3 linked regions of the Homo sapiens genome follow. The protein of the gene in region 3 purifies or fractionates together with the protein of the main gene of each other region. This does not show direct contact. Each region holds a gene or a part of one and is shown on either strand. Other genes may lie near its edges. The genes, in order: IREB2, MCM8 and GAGE1.

Region 1 (3,649 bases), on a different chromosome or scaffold from region 3:
GATGTTAAGAAATTATTGTGATTTTTTTTTTTTGGTGTAAAGATTTTTTTTTAAGAGTCTACATCTTTTAGTGAAATGTACTGAAAAGTATGCTGTTAAAATTATCTCAGTTTTGCTTCAAAATAATCTAATGGGGTTGACTGTAGAAGAAACGGAGCATCTGTTAAGTTATAGCTTGGTGATAGGCGCATGGACATTCATGGTTTTGTTTTCTTTTGTGTTTGAAATTTTCTGTGATAAAAAAATTTTTCAATAGGTCTTACAGCTCAATAGTATGTGATTATTTTCCACATGTAATGAAAACTGACTTTCATTACTTTCTTGTAGCCTTACCCCTCGTGAATTCAACTCTTACGGAGCTCGAAGAGGTAATGATGCTGTAATGACAAGAGGCACTTTTGCAAATATCAAGCTTTTTAATAAGTTTATTGGAAAACCAGCTCCTAAAACAATTCATTTTCCATCAGGACAGACGGTGAGAATGCAAACAAAGTATTTAGACAATTTATAACTGGATCAAAATTTGTATTAAAAAATTTTGTGTTTGTTTTAATCTACAGCTAGATGTATTTGAGGCTGCAGAGCTGTACCAGAAAGAAGGTATCCCACTGATTATTTTAGCAGGAAAGAAATATGGTTCAGGAAACTCCAGAGACTGGGCTGCCAAAGGACCGTATTTACTGGTATTGAATCTTAAAATTTATCATCTTAAGCTTCAAAGAGTTTTAACTGTTCCCTTTTGTCAGTAACATCCTGTCAAAGTTTATCTGGATTTTTTATAGTTATTTGAACCTTATAGGTATAGAGGGTTTTGTTTGTTTGTTTATTTCAGTGATCTTTGGTAATATTTTGTACTCATCTAGTTAGTATCATTTTAATACTCTGAGTTTGGTAAAACCTACATCAGTCTTATGTGAAGAAGTCAGTATAATAGAGGGAAAGGAAATTCTGTTTTAAACTATTGTTTTATAATTATTTATACCTATTGATCATTTTTTTTGGTTTTTTAGTTTTGAGACCATGTCCTTGTCACCCAGACTGGAGTGCAGTGGCGCAATCACTGCTTGCTGCAGCCATGACCTCCCAGGTGCAATCAGTTCTCCTGCCTCAGCCTCCCAAGTAGCTGGGACTACGCCATGAGTTACCACACCTGGCCAATTTTTGTATTGTTTGTAGAGATCGGATCTCTCTATTTTGCTCAGGCTGATCTTGAACTCCTGGGCTCAAGTGATCCTCCCGCTGTGGCCTCCCAGGGTGCTGGGATTACAGGCTTGAGCCATGTGCCCGGCCCCCACTGTTAATTTTACTTGCCTCCTTTTGATTTAATTTTCTCCGATTTGCCCCATCAGTGGGTAAAAGACTCAGAAGTAGTAGGCCAAGTTGCACCTTTTTTCCCCCTAAATAGGAGATTGTGGTGCCTGGCTGTCTGCCAGGAGGACATTTCTCCTGAGACTGTTTCCTTGTTGCAGAGCAAATAGGCCATCTGCTGGGGGGGAATAGTCATGTGACATGTGCTTTTTGCCATTTCATACTCACAGATGCTTCTCTTTACAATTGTAGCTGTAAAAAGGCTGGCTGAAACACAGATACCATGCAGGCCTCATTCTTATTTTAATCTTTAATATCTCCTTTAAAATGTAAATACTCTGAGGGGCTGTGGGAATAAAACAAAATCTCATCCTTCTAAGATACTAATTATAAGTATTATTATGAGTATTAATGATAGGTATAGGTTATTTTTATCCTGGAAATTGTTTTAGTGTTTGTTTTTGATGTTGGAAGCTTTCCTTATATGGCAGGTGATGCTTGGCCCTCCATTTGTTAGACATTAAAAAACTGATTACAAGCCATGGATGGGGGCTGGGTTGTGTCAGTTACTGGGCCTTACTATAGGTGACTGGGTGATAAGCTACCTTTTTCATTAAGCGATTCTATATGTCATTATCTGTATTTTCTCTGAGGCCATTCAGTTTCTTGAAGGAAAGAGACTCGTTCAGTATGTAGACATCTACTTAGTCCCCTGTTTTCAATCTGGTATTCTCAAGCCCCTGTGCCCAGTGTTTGTCAGTTTAGAGAATGTATTCTCTTCCTTATTTCTGCTATAACAAAAAATGAGTAAAAATTTGTAAAAAATGAGTAAAAAAGAACAAAAATTGGTCCTCAGGTGGTAAAAAAAATTCTACTTTTTGCACATAAAGTACAGATAAGAGTACATTAAAAGATACACAGCATCTTTGTGGTACTAAAATTTTGGAGAGAAGGGAGGTGAACAGGAAGACACAATTTGGGGGAAAAAAGTCTTAAAAGACTCCTTAGGTAGACAGTGGAGAAAAAAGTTGAAAAACACAAGTCTAGAGCCTTTGGCTCATTTTTTCCAGAGAATAAACCTCTACTCTTGTGGAGTGGGGATTGAGCTGGATCTTACTGCTTTGTATGGCCTTGTAACCTGTGTCCACGAGTATTCTGAGAACCTCATGCCTCTGAATCTCAATCCTTTTCCTGGGTCTTGTGTTGCACATTAACTCAGACCTTACTGGTATCACTCTCTAATTTCATTTTATCATTCTGCGGTTTCAGCATTGTCTTCTAAATCACTTACCTATCTCTGTTTTCTAAATATTCATAGAATTCTCTCATCCTATTCCCTTTGTTGCTGTGGGCTTATACCCTCTTCATTATTGTTGTTACTTATTTGTATTTTTTGGAGACAGGGTCTCACTCTGTCGTCCAGGCTGGAATGCAGTGGCATGATCTCAGCTCCCTGCAACCTCCACTTACAACCTCAAGTGACTCTCCTGCCTCAGCCTCCATAGTAGCTGAGATTACAGGTGTGCACCACCATGTCCAGCTAATTTTTCTGTTTTTAGATAGAGATGGAGTTTCACCATGTTGGCCAGGCTGGTCTCAAACTCCTGGCTTCAAGTGATCTGCCCACCTCGGCCTCCCATAGTGCTGGCATTACAGGTGTGAGCCACTGCATCCAGCCTATTCTTGTTACTTTTTATTGTATTTTTTATTTTTATGTTTTGTAGAGACAGGGTCTCACTATATTGCCCAGGCTGGTCTCAAACTCCCGGCCTCAAATAATCCTTCTGCCTCAGCCTCCAAAGTACTGGGATTATAAGCATATAAGCCACTGCGCCTGGCCCTATATACCTTCTTTATTCCTTTATTTTAGTGGCATTTCAAGAGTGTTGAAAACATATGTTAGATCTGGCATGTTTAAATAGAAATCCTTCTGAGCCCTACTTTGGGGTCAAGGGAGCCGGCCCATTTATAGAGCTCTTATGATGTGGTAGGCAGCGGCAGTACTTAACCCTAGAGCAGCAGAAAGGGATCCGAATAATTTAGAGAGCTCCATAAAAATTCAGAAAAATAATCTGTAAGAAGGTTCTGTAAATACTTTGATAAAATATTGATTCAGTATGAGATATTAGACTAAAAGTATTTAGAGAAAGGCCAAAGTAGATTTTTGCCCCCTTTAAATGCTCAATAAATAACTTTCAGAAGTGATTAGAGGGAATAAAATGCACATTTATTACAGGGTGTGAAAGCTGTTTTGGCCGAAAGTTATGAAAAAATACACAAAGATCATTTGATTGGAATTGGCATAGCTCCACTTCAGTTCCTTCCAGGAGAAAATGCAGAT
Region 2 (3,649 bases), on a different chromosome or scaffold from region 3:
ACCTCAGGTGATCTGCCCGCCTCGGCCTCCCAAAGTGCTGAGATTACAGGCATGAGCCACCAAGCCCAGCCGAAGAACGGCTTCTTAAGCAGGGCATAAAATATACAAATTAGGGAGGAAAAGACAACAATTTGATCATGTCAAAATGTAAAACTGTACAACAAAAAAACCCACAAAGTTAAAAGACAAACCAAAGACTGGGAGAAAATATCTAATGTATATAATCAACAATAATTAGTATCTAGAATGTATAAAGAACTCCTATCAATAAACTAATAGAACCAGGCACAGTGGCTGGCACCTGTAGTCCCAACTACGTGGGAAGCTGAGATGGGAAGATCACCTGAGCCCAGGAGTTCAAGGTTGTAATGAGCTATGATCATGTCACTACACTCCAGCCTGGGCAACAGAATGAGACCCCATCTCTAAAAAACAAAATTAAAGAATAAACCAATAAACAGGAAAATGAACATTAGATATAAATAGAAAATTCGATAAAGAAACTGAATGGCCAGTAAAGATATGAAAAGATGCTCAACCACAACAGAAATCAGAAAAATTCACATTATAAATGCAGTATTATTTATACCTAACAAACTGTCAAAAATGTACAAGTCTAACAATACCAAGTGTTAATGAAAAGACAGAGAAATGGTAACTACTTAACACTACCAGCAAAGATTTAAGTTGGGAACAATACTCTGGAAAGTAATTTGGTAACATCTAATACAGTTAAAAATAAGTACAGCCGGCCAATCCCAGCACTCTGGGAGGCTGAGGCAGGCGGATCACCAGGTCAGGAGTTTGAGAACAGCCTGGCCAACATAGTGAAACCTTGTCTCTACCAAAAATACAAAAATTAGCCAGGCATGGTGGCGCGTGCCTGTAGTCCCAGCTACTCGAGAGGCTGAGGCAGGAGAACTGCTTGAACCCAGGAGGCGGAGGTTGCGGTGAGCCAAGATCGCGCCACTGCACTCCAGCCCGGGCAACAGAGCGAGACTCCGTCTCAAAAAAAAAAAAAAAAAAAAAAAAAAGTACAGCCTACAACTTAGTATTCCTCTGCTAAGGAGACATGTACAAGAATGTTCTCTGCAGTATCATTTGTTCTTATAAAAAACTGGAAAGAGCACAATTGTCTACCTCCAGGAAAATGGATAAATTGTGGCTATTTATTTAAAGCAACACTCCACAATAGTAAAAATGAAAGAATTTGATATGTATTAAAATAGGTAGAACTACAAAATAACCAAATAAAAAAACAGCTGCGTGTTACATTCAGGATACCATTTACGTAAACACAATACAAAAAACTAACTCTACACATGTAGTCAAGAATAAAAATGTAAACTTGAAGAATACATGCCAATTTCAGCATAGTGGTTGCATCTAGGGAGCAAATAAAGGGAATAAAACTGAGAACAGAAAGACTTCAACTTTATATAACCATATTTTTGTTACAAATTAAGCTAAAATAATATTAATATTTGCCAAATCATAGAGTAGATAAATGTTAATTACATTATTCTCTGCACTTTTCTATAGTTTTAAAATCCAGTTTAATAAAGGCTAATAAAGATTTAAAAAACCCATCACTTCTAAATAGTAGAAGAAATAAAGGGGAAAAAAAACTTGGTGTGTATACCTAGAAGTCAACAGAAATATGAATGGAAGGGATGCATATTATAATAACTTCAGGATAATGATCATCCCTGGGAATGGTATAGGTAAAAAACAGACACTAATTGTGCCAGTAATGCTTTATATCATTAAAAAATGTGTCCGGAGCTGAAAAATGTAAATTCGGGGTGATGAGTAGTGGAATGTTTTATTTATTTCTGTATTTTTCTTACCCTGAAGTATTTCATAATATAAAAGCAGAAAATTGAAAATAAAAAATAAAAATAAGCTCTGTGTTCAGAAACACTGGGAAATGTTTTCTGTATTCTGATTTGCCTTCTTTACCAAGATAAATAAAGAAGCAGTTAAAGAACGTATTACCTTTGTGGGAAGACTGTATTTTCCATCTGGAAGAGGAAAGCTCTGAATTTCTCCACATGCAGCACAAAGAAAAGCCATCTTGGTGCAAAGAGGCTTTATATTACTGACACGAACCACTGTCCCTCTTAGAGCAATGTATTTTCCATAGTAATTTGCTCTGACATTCTTGAGCTGTGTCAAAGGCTCATAGTTGTACACCCTAAAGACAAAACAGGAAGTAATGAACAGAAAATTGATGTTTTTTATATTTTCACAAGTTCCTTTTAGGAGCAACTATGGAATTCTCAAATCAAATCATCCCTTCGATATATCAGAAATATCACAAGAATTAAACCATTCTTGTTGTGTTTTGTTTTCTTGAGATGGAGTCTCGCTCTGTTGCCAGGCTGGAGTGCAGGGGTGCCATCTTGGCTCACTGCAACCACTGCCTCCCGGGTTCAAGTGATTCTCCTGCCTCAGTCTCCCGAGTAGCTGGGACTACAGGTGTGTGCCACCACACCCAGCTAATTTTTGTATTTTTAGTAGAGACAGGGTTTCACCATGTTGGCCAGGATGGTCTCGATCGCTTGACCTCGTGATCCGCCTGCCTCGGACTCCCAGTGCTGGGATTACAGGCATGAGCCACCGTGCCCAGCCAAACCATTCTTAACAAGAAACAACACTAAATCTTCCTTTTTCTTCTTGTCTCACAGGCTGTTCTCAAGGAAAAAAGAAAAAAGAAATTTAAGGAAAAAAATAATGCCAAAAGGAAAATCTACAGATTCAAAAACCTTTGGGTTTCTAAGTTCTTTTTAAAGAACTGCTAGGAAATTTTCTTCTATAAATTCTGGAAAAGAAAAACAAAATGCTGATGATTACCTTATAATGAATTCTTCTAATGAATTTAAAATCTTAAAGATGAATTCAAGAAAAACAAAATAATTTCATTATTCCCTTGTATCTAACAAAAACCTAATAATTTAACAAAGAACACTTAGTGTATTACAGACTGAGTATATCCCTTATCCAAAATGCCTGGGACCAGAAGTATTTTGGAATTTTTGGACTTCCAAATATTTGCAATATTACTAGTTGAGTATCTCTAATTCAAAAATCTGAAGTGCTCCAATGAACATTTCCTTTCAGTGTCGTGTCAGGGCTCAAAGTTTTGAATTTTGGAGCATTTCAGATTTCAGATTTTCAGATTAGGGATACTCAACCCATACATGGATTATTAAACTTACACAGCAGGGTCTTGATAAGTTCACATCCAAAACCAATGTTTACAAAAATCTGCAGGTTAGGAAATCAACATTTTCTTCCTTATTTAGGAAGTATCTGTCATGATGTCTTTGAATAATTTTCAATGAGTTTATTTCAGTGTGATGATCAATGAGATGGCAAGGAACTCATGTCCTTTTTACTGATTTCCTCATTTTTATAAAATGAGCGTTTTCATTCTTAAATGGCCTTCAATGTCCCATTCTAAGTAATACTTTAATACATCAAATTCCTCACCTTGCATGAATATGTGGCACATTTACCATTGTTTCTCCATCATTAGACAATCCTTCCTGGGCTTGTAACTCAGCTGCATGCCTTTCAAGGTCCTTAGTTAACACCTAAACAGGACAGACATTTACTCTGAAGTTGGAAAACAAAACATCCTCTT
Region 3 (4,399 bases):
GATGGATTTGAGGACTATGGAAAATCTTACAGTCACGACACCCATTACCTATTGGGGTAAAGAGAAACTTCACTTTGTTCAAATAAAGTTATATTTAGGTCCGAAGGTCCTAAAGGTAATATTCCATAAATGAACCCCGTGAAGAACAAAGCACCAAATATAACATTGTTTGTGAATCACAGAAAATATACTGTCCCCCGCACTGAGAATAAGGGAGTGGGCGGACAGCAATTAATGGGCATTGTTGTCAGTCAGATTCTAGGAACTTTTAACAGTGCATCCCTGGAATAATCCATGACCTCCGTTACATAAATGCTTCCTTTCAAAACATTTTATCTCGGAGAAATTATTTCCATCTCACGTTAATCTCAGGATAATTCCGTTTTTGCTTTTCTAACCATAAAAGGATTTAATCACCTCCTAAAGGCCGCTGAGAAAAATCACTAAACCAGCTACCTGTATGGCAGTATCCTCATTTATCCAGCTTTTATCAAACGTACCATATAAAAATATCAATCAAAGGAAACGGGGGCCAACATTCAGCGACTCGGTTTTTGGAGCTGCTCCTGCTCCTCTGAACTGGGTCTATTCTTGGGTCAGTACTAAGCTACCTTACAGTAAAGCCTTTTGAGTTTTAAGCATTTTCAGCAAAATCACTTCCTTCTTTACAGCAACATACATGATAGGAAGACACAAACCTTGGAACACAGTACAAATGTTGTATTCACCAGTCAAGGGTTCTTGGATAACACACAATCCTGGCACCTCCATTCTCTCATTCATAAAGTCGAGATCTTTTACCATAGTGAGGGATTTGCCTAAGCTAAGCTGCGAACTACATAGCCTCCTCGCTTTTCCAGTCAATTTCAGGCATTCTTTCCATTGTTTTCTTTCCTCCTCTTCCTCCTATGTGACAATGCCTAACACACACACACACACGTGCACACACACACACACGAACACACACACACGCACACACCAGCAGACGTTCTTCTTCCCTTTCCCTCACCTTGACCTGCAGATGCTCCCTCATCCTCTCCCTCCTGAGCAGCTGCAGGATCCTGACGTTGAGTTGCTGGTTCCCCTTCTTCAGGTGTTGCTGGTTCCACTTCATCACTGAACTGCTCGGGCTGGGGAATACGTGTGGGTGTGCAAATAAAAAATAAGTTTCGTTATTGATACAAAATTTTACATATATACACAGAATACATAGCTATTTCTGGTCCTAACTAAGCCTAAAGACATTTCTCCAACTCTATGCTCTATGCCCAATAAGGTTACTCCACCCACAGGGAGGTTACTGTGAGAAAAGTGACGCACGAGGACTTTGGGGGCTATTATACTCTGTGTTGGAATACATGTGTACAATCTGTCATTAACAAACAAAGCCGGAGAAAGAAGTCATGGGCAAAAGCTGAAGAACACGAGAGGAAAAAAAAAATCCTCCAGAATCAATGTTTCCTTCATGAGATGCCATCCTCATTTTTTATGAGCAGGAAAGACCTTTATCAGCATTTCCACACTAATGCAACGACGCTATCACAAAAATTAATTTCTACTAATAGAAAACATCGAATTAACGTTTAAGCACTCACCCGCATAGGCCCAATCATTTCAGGAGGCTGTACATAGCGCCTTGGTCTAGGCCAATAATAGGTCGATCTTCCTCGCCAACTCATATTTCACACTGAAAACAGACAACCGTGATTGGGAACGTGCGCTCCAGAGGGCTGCTATATTCGATCACTTCCATGGATAAATGTTAACTTGCCGTTTTACTTTTGAAAATACTCTCAAAATAAGTCCCAGAGTTAAGCATACGTGTGTACGCTGTCTGAGTGCCTACAAAGCCACTTCTGCTGGCCAGGCTGGCAGAGCAATCATCTTAAGGCGTGTGGCAAAAGGCAGAGGACATTTTTTTCTAAATTTCTTTTGGACACGCGGTCTCGCTGTGTTGCTCAGGCTGGAGTGCAGCGGCGTGATCACAGCTCACTGCAGCCTCGACCTCCCGCTCAAGGGATCCTCCCACCTCAGTGTCCCCAGTAACTGGGAATACGTAGGCGAGCGCCACTGCGCCCCGCAGACAGAGGTCATTTCTGATGAGGTTTAGTTTCACAAGTGCACTCCCCACGAAAACCCTAGTGAATCACAATTCTCGTGATTGCTGCTTTGGGCACACTCCCACTTCCTAGAGCCATTCACCCCCCCTCACAACAAGTTTGGTTGGACCGCACTGCCTCGCCCACTCCTTCCCACTGTTTTCGGACCTTCCATGGCGGAGGTGAGACCTTGCAGTGCTTCTCACTCGGGCGCTCCGCACTCCACACCGCTGAGGGGGCGCTCGCCAGGCCGCAGCCTTCCCAGGTGCCAGGCCCCTTCTTCACCGCCCGCCTCGCCCCCGCCGGGGGCCCCATTCAGGGAATCTGCCCTGTGTCGTCGGGGATCCCGGCACCTCGGGACTTCCATCCCCCCAACAGCACTCACCCCGTCTTCACCTGAGCCCCTGACCGCCTCCCCTCCACGGCCCACCTTCCTCCCCGTCCAGGCCCCTTCACGACCACGAAGCCGCCGGTGGCCTCGCAGCCTGTGAAGGGAAGGAGGACGACCTCGTGGCCCTTCTCCCTCGGAGGCCACAGACCAGGAAGCGGGACCCGCCTGACCCACCCGAGGCCCTCTCCACCCTCACTCACACTTCAGCCCCCGGGATGACTGGCCTGCACACCTACCAGATGAATCTCAGTAGAGGAAAAAGAGTCCGGACGGCAGGAACCACACAGCACTGCCTCACAGCTCCCTGGCGTTCTTCACGTGGGCGAAGGGGCCGGGCAGAAGACGCCCAGTGAACATGCGCACTGAGGCGGGAGCCCAGGGAGCATGCGCGGCTGTGGGCTGGGGAGGGCTGCCGTTCCCAGCGCCACGCCCCAAACCCTCCATGCCCATCCTCATTGAGGATAAGGGAATCCCACCTCCCTCTGCTGTTTCCTATGCCTCTGGGACTCAAGTAGTGCTCCCCTCAAAACTCACCCCATCTTCAACTGAACCCCACCCCCAACCCAGGGCCCTCTCTTGCCCCGGACCCACCATGGGGACAAGGACCACTGTGACTGGCTGGGAAGACAGGTAAACCACCTGCGAAAACAGAAATAGCAACCTATCCCAAAAGGAAATTGTTCAATGTGAACAAGTCAGAGAAAGAGACTGAAAGAAAAATGAATAGAATCGCTAGGACCCGTAAGAAAATGCTAAAACGATATCTATCATTTGTAGCATCAGAATCGCAGAGGGTGAAGTGACAGTATTAGGGAAACAGGACAGCCAGAGTGACACCACGTGAAAATATACTCCGTCTTGAAAGCAGCAAGATACATAGTCCTACCAGTCACAACCCATGGTCCTAAGATGTTTGGAGTTGAGAAAACAGATGAAAGGTACCTCCAAGGACATGCTCCCACAGCAGCGGAAAGTGCACGGTTCCCAACACCCATTAACAATATATGCTTTCAACAGAATTATGCTTTCATGGACTTACACACTGGTAAGTCAAGGACAGTTTTCTTTAAATCAATAGAATGATAAAAGTCATCATGCTCTTAGCCCACCCGCACAAAGGCACAGATTAACTTTAGTCTTTATATAGATAAGACCCCTATATAAGAAAAACCAGACCAGGCCAAGGCTCACGCCTGTAATCCTAGTATTTTGGGAGGCTGAGCTGGCCAGATCACCTGAGCTCAGGACTTCGAGACCAGCCTAAGCAACATCAGAAAATCTCATCACTACAAAAAACAAACAAAAAACCATCGAAAAATTAGCTGGGCATGGTGGCATGTACCTATACTCACAGCTCCTCAGGAGGCTGAGGTGGGAGGCGCGCTTGAGCCCAGGAGGTCAAGGCTGCAGCGAGCTCTGATAACACCACCGCACTCCAGCCTCGGTGACAGAGTGAGACGCTGTCTCAAGTTTTAATAATCGAACCTAAAAACGTACAAATTTATCAATCGAATTCACTATATTAACACATGAATGGGAAAAAACGCTGTGGTAATCGAAATAGATGCACTGTTTGATGAAAATCAACATATATTCAAATGAATACTCTCAGCAAATTTGGAACAGAATGCAATGACTCACTCTGATAAAGTCCGTCTACAAAAAAAGGAGAGTGAATAGGATGGTGAAATGTTGAAATTTTTCGGTTTCTCATCAGGGATAAGACAAGGATGTCCACTGTCACCATTGTAACGGGTGGGTCTGCGCAATGCCATAAAATCAGAAAAGGAAATAAAACTCTTTACAATGGCAACGACGGGCCCGCCACGGTGGCCCACGCCAGTAATCCCAGCACTGTGGGAGGTGAGGTGGGTGCATCACTTGCACTCAAAAGTTCAACAACAGCCCG

Evidence for each region.
Region 1: the proteins of GAGE1 (region 3) and IREB2 purify together in Homo sapiens (affinity purification with mass spectrometry; one large-scale study listed by BioGRID and IntAct). This does not show direct contact.
Region 2: the proteins of GAGE1 (region 3) and MCM8 purify together in Homo sapiens (affinity purification with mass spectrometry; one large-scale study listed by BioGRID and IntAct). This does not show direct contact.

Annotation. Positions count from the first base shown.
Region 1 is NC_000015.10:78,493,582-78,497,230, forward strand, and holds part of IREB2 (iron-responsive element-binding protein 2), read left to right. Parts: intron 1-327; coding exon 328-475; intron 476-560; coding exon 561-683; intron 684-3,544; coding exon 3,545-3,649. UniProt on the Homo sapiens protein: RNA-binding protein that binds to iron-responsive elements (IRES), which are stem-loop structures found in the 5'-UTR of ferritin, and delta aminolevulinic acid synthase mRNAs, and in the 3'-UTR of transferrin receptor mRNA.
Region 2 is NC_000020.11:5,957,076-5,960,724, reverse strand, and holds part of MCM8 (DNA helicase MCM8), read right to left. Parts: intron 3,600-3,649; coding exon 3,496-3,599; intron 2,198-3,495; coding exon 1,999-2,197; intron 1-1,998. UniProt on the Homo sapiens protein: Component of the MCM8-MCM9 complex, a complex involved in the repair of double-stranded DNA breaks (DBSs) and DNA interstrand cross-links (ICLs) by homologous recombination (HR).
Region 3 is NC_000023.11:49,597,455-49,601,853, reverse strand, and holds the start of GAGE1 (G antigen 1), read right to left. Parts: upstream 2,835-4,399; 5' UTR 2,727-2,834; intron 1,688-2,726; 5' UTR 1,680-1,687; coding exon 1,596-1,679; intron 1,131-1,595; coding exon 1,010-1,130; intron 1-1,009. UniProt on the Homo sapiens protein: Antigen, recognized on melanoma by autologous cytolytic T-lymphocytes.